Regions from separate parts of the Homo sapiens genome. Here region 1 is linked to region 2. The links come from fine-mapping of genetic effects on gene expression. Tissue or cell type: whole blood. Region 2 holds a variant in brackets; the other region holds the start of a gene. All regions are shown on one strand. Distances are from middle to middle.

What was found. PIP is the estimated chance that this variant, and not a neighbour inherited with it, causes the effect.
Region 1: it holds the start of EFTUD2, and the variant in region 2 is fine-mapped to the expression of EFTUD2 in whole blood (INTERVAL, PIP above 0.99).

What each region holds. Positions count from the first base shown.
Region 1 is chr17:44,897,916-44,903,614 of GRCh38, reverse strand. It overlaps EFTUD2 (elongation factor Tu GTP binding domain containing 2), which reads left to right and starts at 4,170. Exons shown (of 28, transcript NM_004247.4): 1 at 4,170-4,246. It overlaps DNAAF19 (dynein axonemal assembly factor 19), which reads right to left and starts at 3,886. Exons shown (of 4, transcript NM_213607.3): 1 at 3,756-3,886; 2 at 2,474-2,625; 3 at 1,963-2,095; 4 at 1-1,250. The coding sequence starts at 2,616. The coding sequence ends at 798. It overlaps GFAP (glial fibrillary acidic protein), which reads left to right. Exons shown (of 9, transcript NM_002055.5): 9 at 1-456. FAM187A (family with sequence similarity 187 member A) reads right to left here and starts at 182. Exons shown (of 1, transcript NM_001258400.2): 1 at 1-182.
Region 2 is chr17:44,824,033-44,831,991 of GRCh38, reverse strand. It overlaps GJC1 (gap junction protein gamma 1), which reads left to right and starts at 1,705. Exons shown (of 3, transcript NM_005497.4): 1 at 1,705-1,930. RefSeq lists enhancers at 100-1,073, 1,074-2,047 and a silencer at 2,103-2,392. The variant T/G (reference allele first, on the strand shown) is at 4,640.

The sequences.
Region 1 (5,699 bases), 73 kb before region 2:
CTCAGGGTGGGGGGGGAAAGCCATTCTAGAACCTGGCCTTTACTCCCCTTTCTAGAACACTGGCGCTCACCCAAGAATGGGTCAAAGGAAACCGGAATGAGAAGGGCGGGCCGAGGTGCTCGGGCAGGGAGATCTCTGCCTCAGTGCTCCAGGCCCTGCCCTGCCAGCCTGGTGGAAAAGTCTTTCATCAACCTGGGGGATGAAGGAAACCCACCCTCCTGCATATCTGGCCATCCGGGAGGCTGGCTGGACCTGAGCTGATGGCTTGGGACTTTCCCAGGCCCAACCTGCACAAGAACTGAGTCTCTAGGGGAAAATTCAACACCTCAAATGATGTAGTATTTGATCATTTGTTGATTACATGTCCATTCATTGGTTTGGGGCTATAAACATTCTTGTTAAGAGCTGTGGAGATCAGTGTTTGTTTACCATAAAGATTTTGCTTTTTCCCTTTTATGAGTGGAGGCTGTAACTGGTATAGCCAGCATTTGGTTGGGCACACACTCATCTCTCAAGGCCAGTGGGCTAGAGGCTTGGCAGACTCTAAGGGTGGGAAACAAAACCGCTCTCAACTTCCTGAGCTCTTGACTGTCCATGGATACACACAGTTCAAAACAGCGAGACACTGAGGGACTGGAGAAGTGGGGAAGACTTGATTCCTGTTTTTGCTCTGAAAATTCCAAGTTGAGAAGGGAACCAGGTGTGGGTTTCTTATTATGGTCCTGCAGAACCCCCAAGACAACAACCAAAAAACTGCCTCCAGTGACCACTGGGACCTCTGAGGGTAGCTTGCCGCATCAGTCAACCTGGTACAGCTCCAGCAGCTCCTGCAGGAGCCTCTCCTCCTCCTGGAGCCCACCAGACTGCTCCTCCAGACCCTGCTCCTCCCAGCTGAGCCCCTCCTTCACGGATCTGGGGTTGCCCATGGCTTGCAGCTTCTGAAACAAGCCCTTGCAGCTCTCTCTCTCTGCCCGGCTCAGCAGGCTTAGGTTCAGGGTGAAGCGCCCAGTGCTCGCCAGGCTGCATAGGATCCCCAGCACCGCTGCCCGGTCAGCCGGCCCCACGTGATCAGCCAGTGCCACCAGCAGCTCCCCAAGAAGTCCAAATCCCACATCTGTCTGGAAGAGGCAGCCGAGCCTTGGACCCCCAAGCTGCAGTAGAGCCTGGTAGCGCTCTGGCCCACTTGGCAAGTGTCGTCGCCAATCACGATAGAAGTCAGCAGACGTCTCGGGCTGGAGGGGGGCTTTCTCCTGGACCACAAAGGAAGGAAAGGGAGTCAGGAGCTCTTCCAGCTGTTCTGCAACAGTGACAGGGAGGGGAGCCTGTAGCTCTTCATCTTACTGTCTTCATCTCACTACTGTCTGAGCACTGGGAAAGCTGTGGTCCTTGGCGGCCTCATTTTCAGATGAGGAAACTGGGGATGAAACAGGGAGGGCCCCAAGGAATCCACGCCATGATTTGAGATTCTCATTTATACTGGAATTTTCCTACTCATGAATGGAGACATAGCTCTGGTCTTCAAGAGTAAGTCAGGGTTTACTGTAAGTCGGGTGGATGGGTTGATTGGAAATCTCAGGAAGAGAGAAAGGAACTCAAGGATCTGAATGTTGGGGTCTCTCTCTCAACACTGCCACAGGATCATTACACTAGACACCATACAACCCAGAGGCAGAGCATCCCAATTCTGATCTGAGAATGAAAGTCAAAGGACTAAGGGAAGCCGACCTTCCTAGCCCAACTTTCTGACTCATTCTGCCCACTTCAACTCAGCTTTGCCATCTGCTGTTTGTTTTTCTTTCTGGGATTGGAGGCAGAAACCTATCTCTGTTGGTTTAACATGACAAATAAAGAAGAGGTATGTGTGGTTAAAAAAACAAAACAAAACAAAACAAAATGAAAAAACAGGATTGAAGCTTTAGGGCAGAGAATCCTGCTGGACTAAAGGGGCAGGGCCTCACCTACCGGGGAGATTTCAGTGGCCACATCCTGGAAGGTCCTTCCCTGAATAGTGTGACAGTTCCAGGGCACAGTTCTCTTTCCTCCCATCTTATCCTTCCGCTCCAGTGGCTTCAGATGTGATGCAAGGACAATACCCCTGTAGGCAAAGGACAGAAATTAGGCAATGGACTTAATGCTGTGTCTGTGGGTGTGAGGCAGCTAGACTTTGCATGGTATAGGATAAACCTGTTACGGACCAATATGACCATAATAATAACAACAGCGATAGCTGACTGCTTTCAAGCACCTCACATGTGTCAGACACTTGCTCAGTCTTATGTGCAAGAACTCATTTAATTATAACAGTTACTGTTCTACAGATAAATAATTGAGACTCAGAGAAGTTAAGGAAATTGCATAAGATCAAACAGTAGACGGTGGGGCCAGGACTGAAGCCCAGAATGGTTTGATTTCAGAGTTAACTACTATAATCCACCATAACAGGAGGGCCTGAGAAAAATGGCAGTGAGCCAACCTGAACTCCTCATAGGAAGCCACCCTCTGTTCCACTGCCCGTAACTTGGCAGCATTCTCCCGTTTGTACTTCTCATCAGCAGTGAGTGCAGCCTGCAGCTCTTTCTCCAAAGCCTTGAAGTTGATGATGTCATTCCTTTCCATGGCCTGTGCCTGGGAAGGCAAAGGGAATACATGTCAGTGGACAGTCAATATCAGGGGAAAGAGGGTACCTCTGAATTATTCACCAGAACACAAAATGACCCCAAAGCACTCTGGACATCATGTCACTCAGATTGGGAGGTGTTACAAAAATCTGGTTTTCTATTTTACAAAGACAAGTTGAATTTCACAGTGAGGACTTACACAAGACTTGTCCCTGAAAATAGAATACAGAGTCCTGACTTTCAATTTGGAGTTCTGTCTTAATTTTGCTCTTTGCCTCTAAAAATATTTTTAATTTTGGTGCTTCAGTCGAGGAGGCATTGGGATCTCAGAATTCAGTTTCTTCACTCTTCCCCCATAGGATTGTTCTACAGCAAGTCGTTTCGACAGGGGACCTCACACAAAGGCAGAACTCTTGTTAGTTACCCTTGAGCTCGGGGATAAAGTTTCATTCTTCATTGAATGTCTTTAATGAGGAAGGAGACTTTCACCCAAACCAGATGCAATGACTGAGCAGGAAATCAAGTAGAAGGGGCAAAGGAAGGAGCTCAATGACCCCATCCCCAAATCCCTCTGTCCAGCCCAGGGCTGGAACAGAGGTCCCTAGGTACCTGGGCAATGCCTTTAGTTCTATCACTGTACTTCTGTAGTTTCTGCATATCTGAGGCTGACTGATCATTTCTACAGAGATATTCTTTTCTTTTTTTTTTTTTCTGGCTCTGTTGCCCAGGCTGGAGTGCAGTGGCGCGATCTTGGCTCATTGCAACCTCTGCCTCCGGGGTTCAAGCAATTTTCGATCCTGACCTCAAGTAATCCGCGCGCCTCGGCCTCCCAAAGTGCTGGGATTACAGGCGTGAGCCACTGCAGAGAGATTCTCTACGTGGGTTCTAGTCGTGGCTCTGGCATTTACTTGTGGGACCTCTCTGAACTGCAAACTCCTAGTGAGTTGAGCTAGATTTTGTGGCGGGGTCATCACCAACAGCCCTAGCGCAAGGAAGCAGGAAGTCCCCAACCAATCCCATAGCCACCCTACCCCAACGTAGGGAATCTGAACGCCAAGAAGGGGCTGGGGTGGCCAGTAACCGAAATCAGGTGTCCAGTTCTCAGCCCTCCCCAGGCATTTAATACATAGAACTAACCCTTCCGTCCCCTTACTCAGCCTCCCGGACCTTCACCCCAGCAGTCCCGGCCTTGGTCCCCTTGCTTTCTTTGGGGATCCCCTGATAAACCAGAACAGGAGGGCAACCCCGCGCAGACCACGCCCGCAGCTGTGGTTGCCTAGCAACTGCGCTAACAGCCTGACCACGTGATCTGCCCGAAGGCCCCTCCCCCCATTTTCAGGGTGGTCCCGAGGCGCCTGATCAGATTCGTTCATCCTCAGCTCTCACCCTCTTTGGAGCAGCCCACGTCTTGGGCTACTCGTCTTGGGGACCCGCTACTCCGCCTTGCCAGTCCGCGGCGGGCATACCTCGGAACTGGTCCTCAGGCAGAGGGTTGTCCTCCCGGGCAGAAAGGCGACAGCGGCGTCTGCGGGGTCCTTCCTGGCGGCGGGCGCAGGCGTTTCCTCGGCGTGGGGCGGAAGCACGATCTCCGGCAGCGGCCTGGGAACTCTTAGCTGAGCAGGCGAGAGGTAAGTTGAAGCGGGTCAGCGGCACGGAAGGGTTGCTCCAGGTGGGATAGGAAATTAAAAAGCGTCAGATCTGGAAGGGGCCTTATATGCTATTGGCCCCTTTCGCTTTACGGATCGGTAAATTGAGGCCTGGAGCGGGAAAAAGAATGGAAGACCCTGTCGTCCTCGTGCCTTCCCAAGGCTTCCGAAGCGCGCACACACGCACACACCTCGATTTCGGGGCTGCCTCTATAGCCTCAGTCCGTAAAATCGTATCGCTAGGTAGGAGTGGTGCTCTAACTGTCCAGTCCCCTCGCTCACTTCCTCTTCTATCCGTGCCGCTTTCAGCCGTTCTTTGCCAAGTTCCCTCCGAAGTCCTCTGAGCTCCTGCATTGTAGCGGGAAGCGGCAGTGAGGTTTGTTACCATGAGTCGCTAGTTTTGTGTAACTGTGGGCAAATCAGCTATATTCTGTGTACCTTGTTAGAGTCATTCATTAGTTCAGTAAATACTTATTGAGGGCTTAGTCTATGCTAGGCACAGTACTAAGTGAACAAAGTCTTTGCTTCAATTGTAGTTGGGGAAATGAACAGTAAACAACTAGATACAAGTCAGCTAGTGATAAATGTATAACATTTGTGAATAGCAATAAAACAGTGAAAGTGGGAAGTTGGAGAGTATGTATGGGGGACTTTTTAGAGTGACAGAGAAGATGACATTTTAGTGGAGACTTGATTGAAATAAAGGAACAAGGTGAAAAATATCAAAGGGGAGAGCGTTTTGGACAAAGAGAAAGGCAAGTGCAGTGGCCCTGAGGCAGAAATGAGCTTGGCTTGTTCCATGAACAGCTTTCTATAACAGTTTCTTCAATCGGCCGGGCGCGGTGGCTCACGCCTGTAATCCCAGCACTTTGGGAGAAAGACGCGGGCGGATCACCTGAGGTCAGGAGTTCGAGACCAGCCTGGCCAACATGGTGAAAACCCATCTCTACTAAGAATACAAAAAAATTAGCCAGGCGTAGTGGTGCACTCCTGTAGTCCCAACTACTCGGGAGGCTGAGGCAGGAGAATCGCTTGAAACCAGGAGGCGGAGGTTGCAGTGAACTGAGATCGTGCCGTTGTACTCCAGCCTGGGCAACAAGAGCAAAACTCTGTCTCAAAAAATATATATAAAATAAATAAATAATTTCTTCAATCCCTTGACTGGGGTCTTGGGAGAATGAGATAAGCATAAATGCGATAGTAGCTTTTTAGAAGTAAAAAGAATATGCATGTGAAAGTTTCCATAATAATTTACATTTAATTATTGGTCCTTGGAGCTCCAATTCTCTCTCTACATTCAGCACCCAGCAGGTGGCATTGAGGGAGTTGGAGGTATCAGTCTAATCCAAGAAATATCAGCATCTTAAAATTAAACATCCCATTCAGTTAACATTTATCCAGTTCCTACTTATGCAAGGTGCTGTCTTGGCTATTG
Region 2 (7,959 bases):
AAAAGTTATTTGTACTAGTTTACAGTTGCAGGCTGTGAGAATTTTAATATTTTATTCAACAGGTACAATGATGTTGTTTCCTGTGTTATTTTAGTTACATGCTATTTATTATTTCCAGGTATTTTCAGAGTTTTCACCCTGGTCATTTTATTTTTTTCACTTATTTTTTTGAGACAGGGTCTCACTCTGTCGCTCAGGCTGGAGTGCAGTGGCGCTATCTCAGCTTACTGCAGCCTTGACCTCCCGGGCTCAAGCGATCCTCCCACCTCATGCTTGGAGTAGCTAGGATCACAGGTGCGCGTCACCACACCCGGCTAATTTTTGTATTTTTTGTAGAGATGGGGGTTTTGCCATATTGTCCAGGCTGGTCTGGAACCCCAGGGCTCAAGCAATCCGCCTGCCTAGGCCTCCCAAAGTGCTGGAATTACAGGCGTGAGCCACCGCGCCCATCCCACACTTGTCATTTTAAATACATCTGTAGAGAGGCAATGTGATAAGGCGTGGGGACAGACTACAGCAATCACAGGGAGAAGTACTTAAATGCTCCGAGGCCAAGCAGGTCATGAAATGATTTAAGCAGCTGAGTGGGGACATTGCCTACCCGGACAAGGTGACTCAAGAGGAGCTGCCATGTGAAAAGAGAAGCTCAAAGTAAGCAGCTTTTGACTTTTTAGGGAGGCCAGAAATCTGGATTTTAATATTTTGGTAACTAATTCATATTTTTGGAAAACATACTGGCCACACAAAACTGGTCAGTGCATTAGATGCCTAGCCTTCAAGATTTCCACTCTGGGGCTACCCCTTAGGGCTTGGCTTTGGGTGGGGGAGTTTGACTTGCAGCAAGTAACCTCACTTGTTAGCGCTTAATTTCCCCTCTGGTCAAAAGGGCAAAATAATAAAAGCCTGTCCATCGGCATTCTGATGCTCAGATGAGATCATTCCAGAGGTCGCCCATCTCTTTACTGAGCCTTCCTTTATTACCCAAAGTCTTACTCTACTTAAAGCATTTGGAGAATTTTCGGTTTCCTACTGGGCATTTTAAAACTGGGGATTCCTATGCATGAAAATTTTTCCCAAGTCCTCTGAATGGGATCCTGCTGGGATGCAAAGAGTTAAGAGGAAATAGCCTATTAGGGTCTTGCTAATCCGAGAAGTTCAGGACCTGAAAAGTATCTAGAGCACTGCTAAGAGCCCCGACTCTAGCTAGATCCACGCAGGGCCCGCCAGATCCTCGAGGAATTGTAGAGCAGAACCTGGGAGGAGACATTAGCATCCCGTGCTACAATGGACCAAGGCCTCGGCGGAGCGCGCAGAAGACAACTCTGGGCCCGCTAAACCAACCCAGGATACCCAGGTAAGGCGAGAACCCACGGCGCCGTTAGCGGCCCGCTCAAACTGAGGCGCGGCTGGCGGGGGACTCTCGCCCGAAAATCAGCTTGGAAGAATGAACTGTCCGGAGCGAAGTCTGCGCCCACCCGGGGTCCAGACTCCACGCGGGTGACTCCCACGCGCGCCGCGCCTCCGCCGCGTCCCGGACTATCCGAGAGAGCGGCGAGGACTCGACCGCGGAAAGTTGGCGCTCGCGTCGCTTCCCGCGCGTTCTGGGGCGCCCCCCTCCCACTCGAGCGCCACGTGCCGCGCGCCCCCCGCTCCCGGGCCGCGGCGGGACGCCCCCGCCCCCACCGCAGCGCGCAGTGCGCAGGCGCCTTCCCGCGGGTCGCGGCGGCGGGAGCGGGAGGCGGCGGCGGCGGCGGCAGCGGCGGGAGCGGCTTCTGCCTCGGCTGGAGACTGAGGCGAAGGCGGCAGCGGCGGAGGAGGTGGAGGAGAGGCGAGGGTGAAGGCGATGGCGACGCGGGGCACATGAGGCCGCGACCGGCGGGACGGGCCGAGGCCCGGCGGAGGAGGCGGCTCCGGGGGAACCCGCCGCCGGGTGAGGGGCGGCCGCAGGGCCGGCTGAGGAGAAGCGGGCCAGGGGCGGGGTCCCAGGGGGAGGCGGGAGAACTCTTGGGGAGCCCGGGGAGGGGCCGAGGAGAACCTCCGGAGGTCCGGGGAGGAGCGCGGCCAGAGCGGGAGAAGGAGGGGGGCGCCGCCGAGGGGTTCCCGCCGAGTCCGGAGGGGCGTCGCCGGCCCGCGTCCTGCCACTGTCCCCGGCGCACCCTCCCTCTTTGTCCCCAGGCGCGCGGCTCCCAAATCGGGAGGGAAACGGCTCGGGGGTGTCCTGGGCCGCGGAGGTGTCGGGCGACGGTCGGGGAGCCCGGACAGAAGCGGCGCGCACTCGGCGGCGCCCCGGCGGTGCCGACAACTACCCGGGCGGTTAGGGGCGCAGGGCGGAGCCGGGCCGCCCCTCGCCGCCCGGGCTCTTCGCGGGCTGCTCTTTGTCTCCCCGACCTCGATCCCTGCGTCTCCGGCGGCGTGCGGGCTCGTCTGAGGCTTCCCGCATCTCCCCGCTGGAACTCCTGCCTCCCGGGGGTTAGAGGAGGGTTCGTTCGAGGGCTGGAAGCGGGAAAGCGGGGCGGAAGGACTGGGCTCATCGCCTCCTGATTAACTCGTTGTCTTTACTTAAAATGACTTTTCCCCCACTTTGTCAAACTTGAGAACTGTTTTGTGTGTGTGTGTGTTTCCTTAAGTCTCTAGCTTCAAAATTAAGAGTAGGCGCTACCGCTGTGATTGTGGGCAGTTGTGTGGTTGGCGGCTGCGTTTGGAGCTCTGAGTTGAAAAGATGTACGTGAATGTATGGTTTAGATTTTGTTCTTTTTTTTGCGATTGTCTGATTGGGAGTACTTTTCCTTTGCGAAATGGGCGAATTTGGTTTTCTTTTTGTTCATTGAGAACTGGCAGTGATACCGATTTCATTATGCTCATGCTTAATTTTGTTAGCATCAAGACGATGTGAAATCGAGTAAGTTAAGTTTGAATAAGTTCAGGCTGAGGGTCATCTTGTATGCCTGATAAGTCTAAATTTGTTATATGTTTGTGTCGTGTATACGTTCAAGTGAATATATGTGAAAGCGCTATAAAAAATCAAACTACATAAATGAAAGGGATTTTAATTTCCTGATAAGCAGGAAACAGCATATCTCCAGTACTTTAATATCTGTAGAAAAATGCGTTAATAATGTCATTTAGGAATAAAATATTTCTCTCCCTAGAGAGGGTTTAGGTATTATTCAGAGTAAAAGAGCAAAAAAATTTCAACCTCAGAGGGTATGGAAAAAAACAGAAAAATACCCTTACTTCCAGAGCTCCTGATTAAAATATTGTGAGTTGTGGGTTAAGTTTACTGATTTAAAAAAAACTTAGCATAGAGTTGTATCACTGCAGTTGCTTTGAATGTCTTAAGTACTGTGTAATGTCAGAATTAAACACGAACTAACTTTTCTGGGTAGAAGGTAAAAAGCTCCAATAAACAGATCTTAGTTTTCCCCAGATTTTTGTGCCCAGAGTGCTGTAGGCAAAGGGCATATTGAAGAGATACATAGAAGTTGTATGGAAGGTCTGTTAATATTTGTCCTGATTTGTAATGGCTTAATATTATTTACTACTTAAACTGTTGTGCATTTTTCCAAAGCATTTCAAACAACCTCTTCAAAAGCCAGCACTTTTAACTTTTGAGGTTGTGTGACTTAAGAATTGTTTTCTACCAGAAACAGTTCTCTTAAAAAGTTCTACCACAGTTCTCTTAAAAAGGAGCAAAGGACCTGGTAATTTTCTCTGTAATCAATTCATGCAGGTAAAATTGAGTTTTAGCCTTTAATCCAGAGGACTTAATTAACATATCTCCAGCATAACAATCTTACTTATAAATGCTGTTATCCTTTGTCAATTAAATTTTATTCTTATATTTGTATAAGTCAGCCAAAGGGAAGGAATGCAGGGTTGTGTTTCTGATTAGTCCACTTCCCCCCAGGTCCAGGCTTGCCTATCAATTGAGTAATGAGGATCTTAGAATACAGGATATATAATTTAAATCCAGAGCATCGTTCTCTTAACAAATGCTTAGTGTTTGTTCCATGCCTAATTCAATGCAAAGTGATGAGTTCCAAAAAATATTGCTTTATTTGTTGTATGTTCACATTTCAAAATTGGTGAGGTGTGTTCTTTTTTCTTTTTCCTTTTCCTTTTTTTTTTGAGATGGAGTCTTGCTCTGTCGCCCAGGCTAGAGTGCAGTGGCTGGGACTACAGGTACCCGCCACCACGCCTGGCTAATTTTTTTTTGTAGTTTTAGCAGAGATGGGGTTTCACCATGTTAGCCATGATGGTCCCGATCTCCTGACCTTGTGATCCTCCCGCCTCGGCCTCCCAGAGTGCTGGGATTACAGGCGTGAGCCACCGTGCCCGGCCATCCTTTTTTTTTTCAAAGACATTGCTATGATGCCCAGGCTGTCATAGTACACTGCAGCCTCAAATTCCTGGGCTCAAGCCATCCTCCTGCCTCAGCCTCCTGAGTATACCCAGCTAATTTCTTTTTTCTCCTCCTTTCCTGTCCTGTCCTGTCCTTCCTTCCTATAGTTAAGTTTGACTAGGGGGTATGATTACTTATTTCTGAACTTATGCTTTTCTTGTAGTGTAGAAATACATGTGGCTTCTGTTCAAAATATTTGATAAAAATTTAGGCAAAGAAAAAGCAGGAATTTTTTTT[T/G]TTTGTTTGTTTGTTTTTGAGACGGAGTTTAGCTCTTATTGCCCAGGCTGGAGTGCAATGGTGCTATCTTGTCTCACTGCAACGGTGCTATCTTGTCTCACTGCAACCTCCGCCTCCCGAGTTCAAGTGATTCTCATGCCTCAGCCTCCCAAGTAGCTGGGATTACAGGAATGCCCCACCATGCCCAGCTAATTTTGTATTTTTTAGTAGAGACGGGGTTTCACCATGTTGGTCAGGCTGGTCTCCAACTCTTGACATTAGGTGATCCGCCTGCCTCTGCCTTCCAGAGTGCTGGGATTACAGGTGTGAGCCACCGCACTCGACCAGATTATTAGTTTTGTAAGACCGTTCCTTTGAGAATAGGTATGAGAAGATAGATTTTGGCTGATATCGTTAACCTGAAATTTAGACATAGAAAACAGTTCTGAGCTGTTAATATCAGCTGAATGGCAACAGTTGTTTTTCAACATACTGCTACAGCTGATGAGTTCAGTTTGTGTTGAAATAAGAACCTAGTAAAATGTATTTTTAAAAATATTTTTTAAGATTTAAATACAAATAATTTTAAATACAAAAAACTAGCTGGGCGTTTGAGCATTGCTATTTACTGCAACTCTAAAGAGTGAATGACCTGTTAGTCAGTACTGGCTGGCATACAGTTATACATTCTTGAATTTTACAAGTACTGTAGTTGGCTGAGAGCAGTCCTTGGCAATAAAGGTTTATCTTTCAGACCTGTGGAATATATTGCCCAAAGAGTTTTCCTAAAACAAGGATATGATGATCTCTTTGCAGATAGCATTTTACTTTTTTTTTTTTTTTTTAGACGGAGTCTCGCTCCATTGCCCAGGCTGGAGTGCAGTGGCGTGATCTCTGCTCACCACAAGCTCCACCTCCCGAGTTCATGCCATTCTCCTGCCTCAGCCTCCTGTGTAGCTGGGACTACAGGCGTCCACCACCATGCCCGGCTAATTTTTTGTATTTTTAGTAGAGACTGTTTCATCGTGTTAACCAGGATGGTCTCGATCTCCTGATCTCATGATCCGGCCACCTCGGCCTCCCAAAATGCTGGGGTTACAGTCGTGAGCCACCGTGCCCGGCCAGCATTTTACTTCTAAAGAAATGAAATGGGGCCAGGAGTGGTGGCTGATGCTTATAATCCCAGCACTTTGGGAGGCCAAGGCGGGTGGATCACCTGAGGTCAGGAGTTCAAGACCAGCCTAGCCAACATGGTGAAATCCCATTTCTACTAAAAGTACAAAAAATTACCTGGGCGTGGTGGCAGTCATCTGTAATCCCAGCTACTCGGGAGGCTGAGGCAGGCAAATGGCTTGAACCTGGGAGGTGGAGGTTGCAGTTAGCCGAGATCGCATCACTGCTCTCCAGCCTGGGCGACAGAGCGAGACTCTGTCTCAAAATAAAAAGAAAGAAATGAAGTATTCTGGTAAATGAATTCTTCTCCAGCTCTCAGTTGAAGCTTTGTTCTTTGAGGCTATAATGCTTGTAATACAAGCACAATTTGGACAAAAGCATTCTGGTGCCCATTAAGTCATTCAACTTTTTTTTTTTTTTTCTTTTGAGACTGAGTCTCACTCTTTCACCCAGGGTGGAGTGCAGTGGCACGATCTTGGCTCACTGCAACCTCCGTCTCCCAGGTTCAAGGAATTCTCTTGCCTCAGCCTTGCGAGAAGCTGGGATTATAGGTGTCCACCACCACGCCCAGCTAATTTTTGTATTTTTAGTAGAGAAAGGGTTTCACCATGTTGGCTAGGCTGGTCTCGAACTCCTGACCTCAGGTTGCCTCAGCCTCTCAAAGTGCTGGGATTACAGACGCGAACCACTGTGTCTGGCCCTTTTTATTTTTTTGAGACGGAGTTTTGCTCTTGTTGCCTAGGCTGGAGTGCAGTCGCGCAATCTCGGCTCACCGCAACCTCTGCCCCCTGGGCAAGATTCTCTTGCCTCAGCCTCCCAAGTAGCTGGGATTACAGGCATGCACCACCATGCCCAGCTAATTTTGTATTGGTAGAGACAGGGTTTCTCCATGTTGGTCAGGCTGGTCTCCTGACCTCAGGTGATCCACCTGCCTCGGTCTCCCAAAGTGCTGGGATTACAGGCATGAGCCACTGCGCCCAGCCTTTTTTTTTTTTTTTTTTTTTTTTTTTTTGTAATTGAGACAGAGTCTTGTTCTGTAGCCCAGGCTAAAGTGTAGTGGTGCTCTCAAGCGATCCTTCCACCACAGCATCCCTAGTAGCTGGGACCACAGGCCCACACCGCCACCACGCCCAGTTAATTTTAAAATTTTTTTTGGAAGAGACAGGGTCTTGTTTTGTTGCCCAGGCTGGTCTTGAACTCCTGGGCTCAAGCAGTCCTCTTGGCCTCTCAAATATGGGGATTACAGGCCAAGGCACCTGGATCCCAACGTTTTTTTTTTTTTTTTCTTCCCCAAAACATATAAGCACTTGATTAAAAAAAAAAAATAGTTGGACTCTTTCTTTCCCCCCCTTCTCACTATTGCACTTGACTAATTTTTTTTTTTTTTTTTTTAAGACAGTCTTGTTCTGTCATCCAGGCTGGAGTTGCAGTGGTGCGATCTCGGCTCGCTGCAACCTCTGCCTCCCAGGTTCAAGCAATTCTCCTGCCTCAGCCTCCCAAGTAATTGGGACTACTGGCGCATGCTGCCACGCCTGGCTAATTTGACTGATTTTATTTTATTTATTTTATTTTTGAGACAGAGCCTCACTGTGTCACCCAGTCTGGAGTGCAGTGGCACACATGTACTCCCAGCACTTTCGGAGGCTGAGGCTAGAGGATACCTTGAGCCCAGGAGTTTGAGACCACCCTGGGCAACATAGTGAGGGCCCTGTCTCTGCAAAAAGTAATTTGAAAATTAGCTGGATGTGGTGGCATACACCTGTGGTTTCAGCTACTCAGGAGGATGAGGCAGGAGGATTTTTTGAGCCCAGAAGTTGAAGGCTACAGTGAGTTGTGATCACACCATGCACTCCACCCTGGTCAACAGAGTGGGACAGTCTCTATTTGAAAAAAGAGGCCGGGTGCGGTGGCTCACACCTGTAATCCCAGCACTTTGGTAGGCCGAGGCAGGCAGGTCACAAGGTCAGGAGTTCGAGACCATCCTGGCCAACATGGTGAAACCCTATCTCTACTAAAATACAAAAAATTAGCCGGGCATGGTGGCGCGCGCCTGTAATCCCAACTACTCTGGAGGCTGAGGCAGGGGAATCGCTTGAACCCGGGAGGTGGAGGTTGCAGTGAGCTGAGATTGTGCCGCTGCACTCCAGCCTGGCAACAGAGCAAGACTC